Linked DNA regions of Homo sapiens: region 1 is linked to region 2. A link means that fine-mapping ties the variant in region 2 to the expression of a gene that starts in the linked region. Tissue or cell type: blood mononuclear cells. Region 2 holds a variant in brackets; the other region holds the start of a gene. All regions are shown on one strand. Distances are from middle to middle.

What was found. PIP is the estimated chance that this variant, and not a neighbour inherited with it, causes the effect.
Region 1: it holds the start of MAPRE1, and the variant in region 2 is fine-mapped to the expression of MAPRE1 in blood mononuclear cells (TOPMed, PIP above 0.99). The same link has a PIP of 0.9 or more in T cells, esophagus muscle and tibial artery.

What each region holds. Positions count from the first base shown.
Region 1 is chr20:32,818,464-32,821,110 of GRCh38, forward strand. MAPRE1 (microtubule associated protein RP/EB family member 1) reads left to right here and starts at 1,491. Exons shown (of 7, transcript NM_012325.3): 1 at 1,491-1,565. RefSeq lists a silencer at 1,208-1,797 and enhancers at 1,870-2,539, 2,540-2,647.
Region 2 is chr20:32,856,032-32,858,678 of GRCh38, forward strand. LOC119746555 (a long non-coding RNA gene) reads left to right here and starts at 601. Exons shown (of 1, transcript NR_171378.1): 1 at 601-2,647. The variant T/C (reference allele first, on the strand shown) is at 1,629.

The DNA of each region.
Region 1 (2,647 bases), 38 kb before region 2:
TGGCCTCTTTGTCCCTCAGTTTCTTTCTGCTGTAAAGTGGTGCAGTTCCTCTTTTTTTCTTTTTTAGACGAAGTCTGACTGCAACCTCTGCCTCCCAGGTTCAAGTGATTCTCCTGCCTCAGCCTCCCAAGTAGCTGGGATTACAGGCGCCCACCACCATGCCCGGCTAAGTTTTGCATTTTTAGTAGAGATGGGGTTTCGCCATGTTGGACAGGCTGGTTTCCAACTCCTGACCTCAGGTAATTCATCCGCCTTGGCCTCCCAAAGTGTTGGGATTACAGGTGTGAGCCACCACGCCCAGCCCAGTTCCTCCTTCAGCCAAGGCTCTCTTGAGAATGTAAGGGCCAGGTGTGGTGGCTCACGCCTGTAATCCCAGCACTTTGGGAGGCCGATGCGGGTGGATCTCTCGAGCCCAGGAGACCAGCCCAGCCTGGGCAACATGGCAAGACCCCATCTCTTAAAAAAAAAAAAAAAAAAAAGAGGGAGTGGGCAAGAGAGAATGTATGTACAGCCATTGGGAAACAACCCGGAACAGGACTCAGGAGGTCCTTGCTCCTGTGGACTTTACAGGAGACAGACAGTAAAGGCACAAGATGCCTTCTTATGGTACTAAGAAGAAAATATGCCGCATGATATTGCAGATGGGGGGGCGGGGGCGTCACAGAACGTGACTTTTTTTTTTTTTTTTTGAGACAGAGTCTTGCTCTGTCGCCCAGACTGGAGTGCAGTGGTGCAGTCTCGCCTCACTGCCACCTCCGTCTCCTGGGTTCAAGTGATTCTCCTGCCTCAGCTTCCCAAGTAGCTGGAATTACAGGCGCCCACCACCACGCCAGGCTAATTTTTGTATTTTTAGTAGAGATGGGGTTTCACTATGTTGGCCAGGCTGGTCTCAAACTCCTGACCTCAGGTGATCCTCCCACCTGGGCCTCCCAAAGTGCTGGGATTAAAGGCGTGAGCCACTGCACCCGGCCCAGAAAGTTGACTTCTAAGCGTTTCCCCAAAGTGTCTATTAGGTATCTTTATGATTCAATAACCCATTCTTACAGAAATTAATTGTAAGCCTGGGAGCGGTGGCTCACGCCTGTTATCCCAGCGCTTTGGGAGGCTAAGGCGGGAGGATCGCTTGAGGCCAAGAGTTCGAGACCACCCTGGGCAACACAGCGAGACCTCCATACATCTCTAAGCAAAAAAAAAAAAAAATTCATTGTAAAAGCAATTTTCTTTTTGGTTACTGCCATAGGGATTTTGTAACTGAGTCACACCGGGCCGAGGCGGGACCTCATTGGCTGCGACCGACCACGTGCCGCAGTCGCCCCGGCGGTCGGGGCCCCGCCCCTCGGCTACCGTTCTGTGGATCAGGGGCCGAGCTCCGCCCCCGGCGCGCGGCTGAGACCCTCTCTATAAAAGGAGCCGGCGGAGGATGGCGAGCCTTTACGTCGGCGCGTAACGAGGGGGTGCGTGTGAGGTCATCGCGCGGGCGGGCGGGCGGGGTCTGGCGGTTTGAACGAGACGAAGACGGAACCGGAGCCGGTTGCGGGCAGTGGACGCGGTTCTGCCGAGAGCCGGTGAGCCGGCTAGCGGGCCCGGGGGGTGCGGCTGGGGGGGCGGCCGCGTGGGCCAAGGCCGGGCGTGCGCGGGCAGGCCCTACGGGCAGCGCCAGGGCCGTTCCACACGGCGGTGCTGTTCGAGCCGGGTGGGGGAAGGGCGGGGCCGTCACCCGGCGCGCGCGGGCTGGGCCTGGGGGCGCGCGCTGCGCTCTGCTCAGGGGGCGGGGTCTCGGGCCGGAAGTGGGCTGCTGCTACGCGGGGTGGGGGTTTCTGGGCCGCCGCTGAGGTGTGGTCCCTGCGCTGCAGCGACTGGAGGTCCCAGGGTGGTTGGGCCCTGGGAGGGTGTGGGCGAGGTGGGCCGTCCTGGGAGCTCTGGGGACGCACATTGTGGGAGGCCGTGTTGCCTGAGGGCCGAGAGATCGGGTGGTGGAGTCAGACCTGGGTTGGGTTCCGTGCGGTGTGACCTTGGACAGGTGCTTTAACCGCTGTGGATCTCAGCTTCCTCATCTGTAAAACGGGGACAGTAATACTACCCACATTAAACTCTTAGCGCGATGTATGGCAGAAAGTAAGCCAGCTCTTGGACTCCCTCCTTTCTTCAGTGTGTGTTTATTGAATGCCCACTAGGTGTTGGGCACCGTGCTAAACCCTGGCTGTTTTCCCGGGAACAAAGATTTGCTCTCCAGGAATCCACATTATGATGAGCAGGAGGACAGTATAACGGGATGGTATCAACAGTGCTAGTTCAGTCCCTACTTCACAGTTGCCCTCGGATGCTGCAGGGCAGAGCTTGACCTCTGCCCCATTTTGGGGATGAGGATCCTGGGGCCCATTGAGGGAGGTTATGCTAGGCCGGGCATCCGCTTCTCCGATGGCATGTCTCTAACAGTAGTAATGATAATAGCAGCTCTTTGTTAGTTGGGCACTTGTTTTGTGTCAAGCACTGTTAAGTGCTCCATGTGGCTTTGTGTCTTTTAATACTAACACTGTCTTTAAGAGAGATTCTCTTCTTCCTTTTTTTTTTTTTTTTGAGACAGAGTTTTATTCTGTTGCCCAGGCGTGCAGTGGCACCATCGCTCACTGCAACCTCCGCCTCCCGG
Region 2 (2,647 bases):
TATCCCAATTTGTCCCTCCCTCCTCCTTAATTTTGAAGCCTGAGAGAGGAAGTAATAATTTTCTTTTTTTTTTTTTTTTTTGGTAGGGATGGGGTTTGACTATGCTGTGCAGGTTGGTCTGCAACTCCTAAGCTCAAGTGATCCGCCCTCCTCCGCCTCCCAAAGTGCTGGGATTACAGGCCTGAGCCACCGTGCCTGGTCTGAAGAAGTAATAATTTTAAGATTCAGTGTTGAGTGAAATAAATGTATTCTTAAAAATTTCTAAGAGTGTTTAACTCTCTGACCTAATATTTAATATTTTCCCCAATCATTAGGAAGTGCTTTTTTGTTGTTGTTGTTGTTTTTTTTCCAGGCAGGGTCTCGCTCTGTCACCCAGGCTGGAGTGCAGTGGCATGGTCACGGCTCACTGCAGCCTTGACTTCCCGGGCTCAAGTGATTCTCCCACCTCAGCCTCCCAAGGAGCTGGAACTGCTCAGCTAATTTTATTTTTGTAGAGACAGGGTCTGGCTATGTTCCCCAGGCTGGTCTCAAACTCCTGGGCTCAAGCAGTCCTCCACCACTCCTGGCCAAGAAGTGCCTTTTTTTTTTTTTTTTTTTTTAAAGTAGCTGCTGAACACAGGAGAATCTGCCTTTTTCTTGAATCGTGGTTTTTTTGTTTTTTTTTTTTTCAAGACGGAGTGTTGCTGTTGTCGCCCGGGCTGGAGTGCTGTGGTGCGATCTTGGCTAATTGCAACCTCCGCCTCCCAGATTCAAGCGATTGTCCTGCCTCAGCCTCCCGAGTAGCTGAGATTACAGGCACGCACCACCGTGCCTGGCTAATTTTTGTGTTTTTAGTAGAAACAGGATTTCACCATGTTGGCCAGGCTGGTCTCAAACTCCTGACCTTGTGATCCACCTGCCTCGGCCTCCCAAAGTGCTGGGTTTACAGGCGTGAACCACTGCACCCGGCCTGAATCATGGTTTTTTGAAACCATTGGCATCTGAACCTGTAGCTCTCTCTGGTAGTGTTGTGTGGTTTTAAATGTCATGTGAGCTGAGTTACTGACCTCAACCTACTGCCAGATGAAGGTGTGATCCTGTGATACCAATCTTGAGGGTCCCTTCTAGTTTTAGCAGTCAGTGACTTCTCTTGTTTATTTTTGTTTGAAAAAGTAAAAGGCTCTCTTTTTGGCTATAGAGTTGCATCTTGAAATTTTTGACAAATTACATAGAGCTGAAGAAGGATACAAGTTTTGATATCTTAAAATCACAGGGTTGAAGCTTGAAAGGACAGTATTGGCATTGCAGCTAAGTGGGAGTGTGAGGAAGCGCCTTCTCTAGGGCAGGTAATTGCATCTGTTAATGTGGTCCTTGGGCCCCTGAGTTGCTGCCTTCCAATCAGAATTCCCTTAGCATTAGCCAGTGACGCCTGAATTAATCTCAGGTAGGACTTCTAACTTTTTTCCAAAATTATTTTTGTGCAGAGGTTTATCTAGATTTTTCTTCTAAATGTCCTCCTCCCCACTTGTTTTATTATTACTGTTTTTTTCTCTCTTTAATTTTTTTTTTTTTTTAATAGAGACATGGTCTCACTATGTTGCCTGGGCTGATCTCAGACTCCTGGGCTCAAGTGATCCTCCTGCCTCAGC[T/C]TCCCAAAGTGCTGGGATTATAGGCGTGAGCCATTGCGCCTGGCTCTGTTACTGTTTTTCTAACCTGAGTTACTTAGGATCATATTTTCATTCTTTTTTAAAAAGATGGGAGTTTTCTGAACTTTTCCTTAACTAAAAAGTGGAATGCATCTTAATATTTTCCTTTTTTTACTTGTGTTTCTCCCCAGGGAGGGAAAAACATATTTATTGTGACAGAATTTAGCATATTTTAGGCCACATTAAAATACTGATAAATGTATTAATCAGTGAAAATAGGTTATAGTGAAAAATATATACCATTTGATTAATAAAAATGTTATTGGAAAAATGCAAGAACTGCTGTAAGAATTGCTAACATTGTGTTGGAAAATAAATATACTAAGCTAAGAAACAATGGGAAACTGTCATATGTAGGGCCAACAGCCTTTTTTTTTTTAAACCCTTCCAATTTATTAATATCTAGTCTAATAAACCCTGATTTATAGGACCTCTGCACCTTTTTTGACTTTTTATTCATCCATTCTTAATATTCTACACTATGACAAAATCCTTAAAACTCCATTATTGATGAAATGGGAACAGACTTTTGTTTTTGTATGTTGGTGTTCTCTGAGTGGTGAAGGCCCAGGGAGAATGTTTTGTTTGGTGGTCACTTAGCATTTGAAAACATCCACTTCCTTGTGACTTAGCTGGGTATCTTTTAACATCTGGAAGCCACGTCCCTGATTGAAATCTCTGGAGACAACTTACCTTTCACCAACTTGTCTGCCAAATTGCACCATGGACCAAGATTGCAGTGGCTGCATCAAGTCTAGGCCTGCCCTGAAGTCTGGATTTGTAAGTCCCCCATTTCAAATGGGGCAGAAGGCAGAGGAGCAGAGGAGCCACTGTGCCTTTCGCTGTCCTGGAGCCAGTTGGCCTTCTGGTTTTGGTGAACCCTGCTTTTATAAGAGGACTCCCTGGCATCTTCCAGTTTCCCGCTACTTGTTTTATGTATTATTTTATGTCTGTGTTTGTCC